Regions from separate parts of the Homo sapiens genome. Here region 2 is linked to region 1. Evidence: fine-mapped expression QTL. A gene starts in region 1. The other region holds a variant in brackets. All regions are shown on one strand. Distances are between the middles of the regions.

Evidence for each region. PIP is the estimated chance that this variant, and not a neighbour inherited with it, causes the effect. A credible set is the group of variants that fine-mapping cannot tell apart.
Region 2: its variant is the best candidate, but not a certain one, in a credible set for the expression of GATA2 in whole blood (INTERVAL, PIP 0.52).

Annotation. Positions count from the first base shown.
Region 1 is chr3:128,489,817-128,495,184 of GRCh38, forward strand. It overlaps GATA2 (GATA binding protein 2), which reads right to left and starts at 3,385. Exons shown (of 6, transcript NM_032638.5): 1 at 3,083-3,385. GATA2-AS1 (GATA2 antisense RNA 1) reads left to right here. Exons shown (of 3, transcript NR_125398.1): 2 at 1-253. RefSeq lists enhancers at 1-513, 514-1,323 and a silencer at 3,095-3,184.
Region 2 is chr3:128,597,055-128,602,422 of GRCh38, forward strand. No RefSeq gene overlaps it. Among named protein-coding and RNA genes, the nearest start is that of LINC01565, 24 kb to the left of the region's middle. The variant G/A (reference allele first, on the strand shown) is at 2,100.

The sequences.
Region 1 (5,368 bases):
CGGAGCTCGAGCCTATTTGGCGTCTCCGGAGACTAGCAAGACCCTCTGAAAGACACCGCGTCCCCAGGGATAATCCCCCGTGTCCGGCAAAGCTGCCCCGCTCGAGCGCGAACCCTGGGACCCAGCGCGGGAGGCAGACCAGCAGCTGGCCGCTGGGCTGTGAACGCCAGGACCGAGCGGAAGCTTCCCGCCCGGCCGCGATCGGTGCCGCGGCTCTCAGGGAAGTGGCTACGCGCGTCCCTCGGGAAAGCAGGTAATTCGCCTTTTTCTCCCACCGGCGCGGTAAAAATTACCCTCCCCCTCCCCGTTCCGTGTGTATTCCCAGTTTCAGCGCAGCGAGCTCGGCGTCTAACCCCTCCGCGGCAGGGTCCCGGCCACTGCGGTAGTGGAGGTGGCCAGCCTGGCTGAGTCCCCTGCCCAAACGTCAGCCCTGTGCTGCCGCCTGCCTGACGCAGAGCGGAGCGAGGGAGGGGATTTAATTACCCCGCTCGGCAGCTCAGAAAATCGCCGCACAGAGGGGCTTAGCAGGACGGTTAAGGAGTGCTTGAGCAGGGGCCTCGGGAGACCCGAACCAGCCTCCTTGCCCGCAATCCGGTGTAGAGGAAAAAAAGGAAACAGGAGTTCTGCCAGGTCCTTTCAGGCCTTGGGGTTGCCTTCCTCGACAACGCAGGCAGGAGCCGGCTTGACCGAAGCCTCCACCTCGGTTGCAGGTCCTGCGTAGGATGCGGGACTGCTGCATTCTCTGGCGGAAACGAACCCGCCTGGGAGAGAGAAATGCGACGCCAAGTAGCAGGGCGCCCAGCTGGCCAATAAAGAGGGACCCGCGCTCGACAATGTCTGTGTGTGCCAGGCAGACCGAGGGACACCAACCGGGCCCCTCCCCATTAGGCCGAAGACATGGTCCTCCCACCTTGGGCCCCAAACAAACTCCCGGGGAGGGTCAACGCAGCCCCCAGAATCTGCTGGGGTCTTGAGGCGCTGTTCCAGGCCTGGTGAGAGCAGATTTACTCCAATTTATGGGCTGGAACTTTGGGGTCCCCAAAACACCTTTAGAGGGACGCGTTCCCTTTTTCAGTACTTTGTTCGTTCGGGAGTATAGTTGGAAATGCTGGCGCTGCCTTTGATCACATTAAGAAGCTGTCACTTTCCTTACTTGGGAACAAGATTTCTCTGAGGACTGGAGAAGGTCAGCCAGGAAGCAGAATTTTCGAAGGACCCTTTTGGCCCGAGAACTCACAGCGGCGATCGCCACCATTTGACCTGGGTGCTTCTGCCTGGGAGCTGGGGAGGTAGCAGATCTGGTGCCCGGTTCTAGAGTGCTTCTCAGGCCTCTACTAAGCCGCGGGTGCCAGGTGGGGACACAGAGATGCCCAGGTCTCCCCGGCCGTCCAGCCCCCCCCCCCCTCTGAGCCCTTTGTTTAAAGTTAGCTCATCCGAGGCGGCCCCTTTGGGACCATAAGTTTGCCCTCCCTTTGTAACCTAATTCTTCTCGCCTTTTCCTTATGGGCAGCTAATTGGCCCGCGGTGTGGGGCTGGGGGTGGGGTGTCAAGGAAACCCATTTGCTAAGGGACTACCTTCCATAGAGAAATTTAATTCGCAACCCAGCGGCCTCCCAGCCCCACACTGGCAATAAACCTTGAGGGGTACGGGGAGGAAGTGGGGTGCCTTAGCAGATGGGTTCAGAAGTTCCCTTAAAGCCGGGGCATTAGATCTCAGGCCAGCAGCCATCCCTCCGGGGGGGTTCCCAAGGGGGGGACTACTGCTATAACGGCCCCTCCTGCTCCTTGAGGTTCAATTCCAGCCCCTTAAAGCAGAAGGCTCCCTCCCTCGGCATCAGTGCAGGCTCTCCCACCTCATTACTGTTCTGTGTCTTTGGGAATCGTAGAGTCTGTGGCCCCCACGTCCTAGGTGTCTCGGCACCCTGGACCCAGGCGCCTCCGAGATTCTATATCGCTTCTGACCCCTACCTTCAAGCCTGGCAGGCTCCCCGCGGAACCCTGCTGAGACCCGGAGACAATCGGGCCGTGCTTCTCCCTCCTCCACGAACAGCCACGGTTTATTTGGAGCGGCCGGGGCCGGCGGCCTGACAACTGGTAAATCCGTTTCGTTAGGCACAATTTGTCTGCAATTTGTCAGCCCGGCTGGGAAACGCTCCCCAGACGCCTCGGCTGCCGCACGGGCCCTACCTGGTTCTCGAATCCTGCCTGCTCATAAACGAATCCTAGCACGGGGTGCCTGCGTAGACCTGGAGCTCACCACCAGATGTTCCCGACCTCGGGAGAGGAGGCTTTTTCCAAAACAACGAATTTCCTTCCTTGTTTTCCGGTAAAGGAGCGTTCGCCACACACGGGGTCCCTGAACGCGGGGCCTTTCCCCTCGTGGTTGGAGCAACGCGGAGTTCAAGCCTGGCCGCCACAGAATAATTTTAAATGCCCCGTTTTCAGACAGATCCAGAACGCCGTCTACGCCTACCGGCGGCAGATCTTCAAGCCCGCGGCGGCCCCATTCTTATTGAAATCCCACTAAACGGATTCCGACTCCGGCTTGGGGCGGGGGGAGACTTCCAGACCCGGCGCTCTCCCCCACACGCACCCCAGTCACACAGGATAAAGGGCTGCGGGGCGCAGCGCGCGGGGGCGCAAGCAGGAGCGAGCTGGGTTAAGCCGCGAAAAGCCGGCGCACGGGACCAGCCGGCAGGTGCAGCCGCCGCTCGGCGGCCCGGCTCGGACGCATCCGCCGCGGTGGCCTGGGGATTGGGGGCGGCCGAGACAAAGGCCCCAGTTCGGGGGCCGGGAGGCGGGGGTGCTTTGCGAGGCTCTGGGAATGCCAGGGTCTCGTGGCCTGTGGCTCCGAGAAATGGGAAGACAAGAGGCCCGAGGCGGGCCTGCTGTGCCCAGGTAACCAAATACTCCCTCTGGTTAAAGTCCCTATAACCAGGGTTTCCGGTCTCTGGCAGGGCCAAGGCGAGCCCCAAAGGTAGGGGCCACAGGGCAAACGGACCAAGCGATTCGGGTGCCAGGCGGGCCGGGCCGGGGGCGGGAAGGGCCGGGCCCAGGGAAGGTGGAAGTGGAAGAAACTCACCGAGCGAGGCGCGGTGGGCGGCGCCCCCGGGCGGACGGGGCCTGGAGTAGAGCTGGGAGCAGGGCGAGGTGCGCGGCAGGCGGGCTCGCGGGACCTGGGCGCGGGGTGGCGGCGCTCACCAGCAGAGCCTGGGCGGCACGCCGAGCGGCCGCATGGTGTTCAGCGGACCGCTTTTGTCCGCCTGGTGGGCGACGGGGCCCTGCTAGGATGGATGTGGCGGCAGGCAATAGACAGACTTGAGCAGCGAGTCCCGGGGCGACGCTGGCCTCGCTACCTTCCTGGCGCTCACGCTGCCTCTCTCTCCCCCACCGGCCGCAACGCGGCTTTTTATTTCGACATCACTTTGCGGGGGGGCAGGGGGTGGCGACGGGGGCGGGAGCGCCGCAGGGGGCAGGAGGGTACCCGGGGCTCTGCACCCGGCCTACCAGGTCCAGCCGCCTGGCCGGCCAAGGGCCGCTAGGCACTCAGGGCGCGCACACCCTGTGCATCCACACTCCAGGCCGCTCCCACCCTCTCCGGAGCGCACACGCGCGCCCCTGACCTCAGGGATGCTTGCTCAGAAAGCTTGGGACACGTCTTTACTGAGACTCTCCCCGGGGACCCTCAGGAGCTGTGAGCACACGCACTCACTGATAATGGTACACAGACGCCCGCTCCTCTGTCTTCAACCCACTTCCAGGAGTGCTCACACGGACACGCACACATCCCTGCACATGTGCACACAGCTGTGGCCGCGAGGACATCCTCAGACAGACGGCCTGGGTCACACCGACACACATGGCCATACAATCAGATGCAACTCGGCACTCGGGCTCACACTCAGGACGCCCTCACTGCCAGGCTTGTTTAGCTAAGTGCAGGCGCAGCCCCTCTCCCTGTCCCACCCCCCCTCCAGTTCCTAACGCTGGGGGACCCCCTGAGCACTTTAGAAGTCCACTGTCTGGTGTCCCCCTGGCCCATCTCCTTGGGGCAGACTCTCACAATGGGGGAAGCAAGGAAGTGTGCAGAGGGCTTGTTCACAGAAGTGGGAGTCAGGAGGGGGGGAGAAAGTGAGTGTGGGAGTCCTCATCCCCAGAAGGCCCCTGGGTTTGTGGGCAAAGACAGTCCAGTCCTTGTGCTGCCAAAGTTCTTACTAAGGGATTCAACCAGTCAGCGTCCCCCCACCCCCACCCCTGATTCCCATTCCAGCAGATCAGGGAGAGTGAAAGTGGCCTGGGGACCTTGAGCCCAGAGGGAAAGTGCTTGGGCTTGGAAGGACTGGGAAATCTGTGCTCCCGTGCCCAGGTGTGCCCCAGAGGAGTGTTTCTGTCCCCTGGTCTTTGTGACCCCTGCTGTCCATAGGTCTTTCTCCAAATCTGGTGGTGACTATTGCATTGTGTGTGTGTTCTATGCATGTGGCTCAGAGTCTATGTCCTGTGTGCCCAGGTGTGTCTGTGTGCACTTAGGAGCACACAGGAGTGTCTGCAAAACTGGGTGTATGAGTATGTTCATTTCTTCTTGTGGGTTCCTGAGAGTTTGTGTATTGGGCAGTAGGTCACAGTGTGGCTATTTCATGACCCTGGAATTTGGCACAAGAGAGTGTGTCTGTGGAAATGGTTGTGCGTCCCTTTGGCTCTGTGTCTGTGGGGTCATCATGTCAGAGACTCATGTAATGAGGGGTGGGGATTTCCAGGTGTTTGCCCATGTGTCTGTAGCAGTGTGTGGCATGTCTATGAATGGGTGTGTTTTGGAGTGTGTGTTTGCGTGTGTATGTGCATGTATCTAGGCATGTGTTACTGTGTGTATTTTTGTTGTTGTTGTTGTTTTGTTTTGTTTTGTTTCTTGAGACAGGGTCTTGATCTGTTACCCAGACTGAAGTGCAGCGGTTCAATCAGCGCTTACTGCAGCCTCAACCTCCCAGACTCAAGCCATCCTCCCACCTCAGCCTCCTGAGTATCTGGGACCACAGGCATGTGCCACCGTGCCTGGCTAATTATTTTTATTTTTATTTTTGTGGAAACACAGTCTCACTATGTTGCCCAGACTGGTCCCAAACTCCTGGACTAAAGCAATCCTCCCACCTCGGCCTCCCAAAGTCCTGGGATTATAGGCGTGAGCTACTGCGCCTAGCCTGTGTGTGTCTTTAATAGTTTGTACCTGGGTATCTGCATGTGTCCTTGAACTGGTGTATGTGTAGGTGTGTGTGTGTGGTGTGTTGCATGTGTCTGGATATCCATGTATAATTCTCTTTATTAATTGATGGCTGTTGGGGCGTGTGTTTGTGTTTGTGTATTTGAACATGCATTT
Region 2 (5,368 bases), 110 kb after region 1:
GGAAGGAAGGAAGGAAGGAAGGAAGGAAGGAAGGAAGGAAGGAAGGAAGGAAGGAGAGAAGGAAGGAAGGAAGGAGAGAAGGAAGGAAGGAAGGAAAGAAGGAAGGAAGGAAGGAAGGAAGGAAGGAAGGAAGGAAGGAAGGAAAAGGAAAGCTGAAGTCTAACACCTAATCCCTACATACAAATGGCTTCACTGAGACCAGAAATCAGAGGAAGCACTGAGGAGCAGAGGCAGCGGTCCTGCTTGCAGGGTCTTAGGTCTATTGTCCCATTACTCCTGACAAGGTAGTTGCTATGAGTCCCCCCACTCCAAAGATGGAAAAGCTGAGGCACACAGAGGGTAAGTCATCTGCCAAAGGTCATTGAGCCAGGAGGTTGGCCAGGGAGATCTCTGCTCACCGAGTTGGGACTGAGGAGTGGCAAGGGGGAGAGTAGTGTTTAGGGAGACCCACTGCGTGCCTGCCACCAGGCTAAGTGCCCTCTGCACTAAGCTACTCTCATCCTCGAGCAATATTAAGAGGCTGGCATCGTGCACCCAATTTTAGAGATGAAGAAGCAGGGCCTCCGGGACCAGAAGCCTCAGCTCACACAGGATTGAGTGCAGAGCTAAGGCTAGAGCCTGTCTGCCTGGCTGCAGGGCCTAACCCCTGGAGAGAGAAGACAACATCACCCTGCTGGTGCTGTCCTCTCAGCCCCCTCCATGCCCTGGGCACTGGGGCCGGATGCCCAGCAGGGGGTGGTGGCCTTGGCCCTGGGCAGACATTCTAGAAAGCCAGCAGTTCATTAGGTCCCCTGCTCCAAAACACAAGGGCCATGCTTGAGACTCATGGGTGAGGGCAGGGGTCTGCTGCTTCTTCCAACCCCCACAACCAAGATGGGCAGGGTGGACACTGGTGTTTCTCAGGCTCCTGTGAGTGCCCAGCCCTTGCCATACCAACCGGTGACAGATGTTGCTGTCCCAGCTGCTTCTCCACGCCTGGTGCAGCCCTCCAGCGAGCTTTGTCAGGCCTACATGGTGATTCAAACACATCTGAGTCAACATATAAATATCAAAGGATTGCACTTTTTAAAATCCAAATTTCACATTTCTCTAGGAAAAAAGTAGATCTGCCAGCCCTAGGCCCATACTCTCACAGATCCCCAGTCAGCTAGTGCTGAGCAGCAGCTACCTCTTTGCGTGAAACATGTGAGCATCAGTTTGCCCCAGTCCCCGCCACCTGCAGCCGAACTACTGTTTTCTTTCTTTTCTGGAGGCAGAGTCTTGCTCTTTCACCCAGGCTGGAATGCAGCGGTGCGATCTCAGCTCACTTTAACCTCCGCCTCCCGGGTTCAAGCGATTCTTCTGCCTCAGCCTCCCAAGTAGCTGGGATCACAGGCACGTGCCACCACGCCCAGCTAATTTTTTGTACTTTAGAAGAGATGGAGTTTCACCATGTTGCCCAGGCTGGCCTCGAACTTCTGATCTCAGGCCTCCCAAAGTACTAGGATTACAGGTGTGAGCCACCACACCCAACCCTACTGTTTTCATTTTTAAGGGCCCTTATGCTGTTGGTCTGCTTGTGGTGGAGGCATAGTCCTTGGTACCCATGTCTCCATCAAAAATTGGAAAATAGAAAATAAATTGAAGGGCCTCAAGTCTTATTCTGTGGACATGCAGAATGTTCACGTGCAGTCCATCTGCAGACGCCTGTCCTGTTCACTATGTGCAGCACCGCTGGGCCAAAGCTCCCTCTCAATGTGGTAACGGCTGCGCACTGCTCCTCCCCAGGGGGGTAATGTTCAGCCAGGTATTTAAGAATGGCACCTCCGCAGTCCACCCCCCCAACACAGCAGGGGCCCCAGGAGGCTTGGCGTCTGCGATCTCAGGTCTCAGGGCCCTCAGCCCTGCTCCCCAGGCCGTGCACACAGGGCTGCCTGGGTTTGAGGGTGCTCTTCCGTGGGCTCCATGCTTGTGGCGTGCATCTGCCCCAAGGCAGGCCGAGCCTGGGGCTGGGTCCTCTCTACCAAGCCCCTGGCACTTCCCGAAAGGGCTGCAGATAATGCAGCGAAGATGGCTGTCAGCGATAAGGACGATGATGACACCGACAAACGGCACTGCCC[G/A]GAAGCTTCCCGAAAGTGATCTGAGATGCATCTTCTGATCTGTGAACCTCCACAAATGAGAGTCCCCTACTTTCAGTTTGGGCCTCACATAATCGCTGCCAGAAACTATTAAAAATATATTTTATAAACTATCCCCCTTGCCCTGTTCATTTATTTCTGGAAATCTAGTCTTAGAAAGTCATTAAAAAAAAAAAACAGATAAAGGGAGGGGAAGAAAAAAGAAAAAGTTATGTTCATGAAAATGTCCACTGGGCAAGGACACACCCAAATGATCATGGTGGGAATGCGGTTTTGTGGGGAAATGTTTTGTTTGTTCATTTTGGTTTTGTTATTTTTAAAACTTTCTGCAATGTTATATCACTTCTCAGAATAAATAGATACAGGCCGGGAGCAGTGACTCACGCCTGTAATCCCAACATTTTGGGAAGTCAAGGCAGGAGGATCACTTGAGTCCAGGAGTTCAAGACCAGCCTGGGCAACATAGTGAGACCCCCATCTCTAAAAAAAACTTAGCTGGGTGTGGTGGCACACACCTGTAGTCCCAGCTACTGGAGCAGAGAGGTGGGGGCTGAGATGGGAGGATTACTTGAGCCCAGGAGGTTGAGGCTGCAGTGAGCTGTTATCATGCCACTGCACTCCAGCTTGGGCAACAGAGCGAGATTCTAACTCAGAAAATAAAATAATAAATAAATGCAAGCCAGGTGTGATGGTTCACGCCTGTAATCCCAGCACTTTGGGAGGCCAAGGTGGGTGGATCACCTGAGGTCAGGAGTTGGAGACCAGCCTGGCCAACATAGTGAAACCGCATCTCTACTAAAAATACAAAAAAAAAAAAAAAAATTAGGTGGGCACGGTAGTGGGCGCCTGTAATCCCAGCTACTAGGGAGGCTGAGGCAGGAGAATCATTTTGAGGCAGAGGTTGCAGTGAGCCGAGATCGCGCCACTGCACTCCAGTCTGGGCAACGAGAGCAAAACTCCATCTAAATAAATAAATAAATAAATAAATGCAACTTTAAAACTTCCAGGCCACCTGTGGTCCCGCCAGGTGAAGCTGGTGGTTAACAGCAAAGACAGGCTTCCTGGGCTCCTGTCCCCACTCCTGCAGTCCCCTGCCAGTGTCTGTGGCAAGGTCCTAACCTCTTTTTGGCTCAGTTTCCTTTTTTTTTTTTTTTGAGACAGAGTCTCACTCTATCACCCAGGCTGGAGTGCAGTGGTGCAATCTCAGCTCACTGCAACCTCTGCTTCCAGGGTTCAAGCGATCCTCCTGCCTTAGCCTCCCAAATAGCTGGGATTACAGGTGCCCACCACCACATTCAGCTAATTTTTTTTGTATTCTTAGTAGAGATGGGGTTTCACCATGTTGGCCAGGTTGGTCTTGAACTCCTGACCTCAGATGATCTGACCACCTCAGCCTCCTAAAGTGCTGGGATCACAGGTGTGAGCCACCATGCCAGGCCAGTTTCCTTATTTTTGAAATGGGCACAATAACAGTTCCCACCGCTTCGGGCCATTGCTTGGATGAAATGAGTTAGTTTGTGCAGAAGTGCTTAGAACAGCACCCAGCTCACAAGTCCTTCTGAAGCCCCAGCCACCCTCCTCTACCTGCTGCCCCCTGCCAGGGCCTGGGCCCCTCCCTCCCTGAGTCCCTTACCTCCTCGGCTTCCCCAGGCCTGCCCTAGAGCCACCCTCTTTCTCAGCCAGTCCTCAACTTTATGACCTTTATCTCTGGAACGCTGATGTGAAGCTCCGATTTGAGGTTAAACTTAATTCATTTTATGCAGAAGAAAACCTTAATTCATTTTATGTTTTATGCTGACATATTTCTCAGTAGAACACAGCCATCATGTCTTCATACACCTTTATATACTCCAGGGCACAAGTGAAAAAATAAAGTTTTTCTGTATAGTCAAAACACATTATCATCGCTGACAAAATAATTCATCAATTCTGTCCAATAGTTGGTTCACAGGCAAATTTAGAGGCAACATTTAAAAACTGTAATGTCCTTCTTTTTTTTTTTTTTGAGACAGGGTCTCATTCTGTCACCCCGACTGGAGTGAGCCCAGTGGCATGATCTCAGCTCACCACAACCTCTGCCTCCCAGGCTCAAGCAATTCTCCCGCCTCAGCCTCCTCAGTAGCTGGGATTACAGACGCGCACCACTGCCACCCGGCTAATTTTTGTATTTTTAGTAGAGATGGGGTTTCACCATGTTGGCCAGGCTGGTCTCGAACTTCTGACCTCAGATGATCCACCCACCTCAGCCTCCCAAAGTGCTGAGATTACAGGCGTGAGCCACCGCACCCAGCCCGTTTTTTGTTTTTTTGTTTTTTTGGTTTTTTTGAGACTGAGTCTCGCTCTGTCGCCCAGGCTGGAGTGCAGTGGCGCGATCTCGGCTCACTGCAAGCTCCGCCTCCTAGGTTCATGCCATTCTCCTGCCTCAGCCTCCCAAGTAGCTGGGACTACAGGTGCCTACCACCACGCCCAGCTAATTTTTTGTATTTTTAGTAGAGACAGGGTTTCACCATGTTAGCCAGATGGTCTCAATCTCCTGACCTCGTGATCTGCCCACCTCGGCCTCCCAAAGTGCTTTTTTTTTTTTTTTTTTTGAGACGAAGTTTCACTCTTGTCACCCAGGCTGTAGTGCAATGGTGCGATCTCGGCTCACTACAACTTCCAACTCCCAGGTTCAAGCGATTCTCCTGCCTCAGCCTCCTGAGTAGCTGGAACTACAGGCACCTGCCACCACGCCCAGCTAAATTTTTTTTTTTTTTTTGAGACGGAGTTTCACTCTTGTCACCCAGGCTGGAATGCAATGGCGCGATCTCAACTCACCGCAACCTCTGCCTCCCAGGTTCAAGCGATTCTCCTGCCTCAGCCTCCCAAGTAGCTGGGATTACAGGCACAAGCCATCATGCCTGGTTGATTTTTGTATAGACGGGGTTTCGCCATGCTGCCCAGGCCAGTCTCAAACTCCTGAGCTCAAGCAATCTGCCCACACCTCGGCCTCCCAAAGTGCTGGGACTGTGGATGTGAGCTCCCCTGCCCGGCCAAAAGTTTAAAAATAAAGAAAAGAATGAGGCAGAAAAACATAACCAATATACGCAATCTCCAAAATAACAGGTGAAGCCCAGGTACCACAGGCTGAATGGCTGTGCACTCTGGTCCTGTCTATGGAAGAATTCACACAGCCTTGGATCTCAGCCCACAGGTGCGCAGGACCCCAGGAAAGCTTGCAAAATGGCTGTGGGGGCAGGGGGAGCATCTCA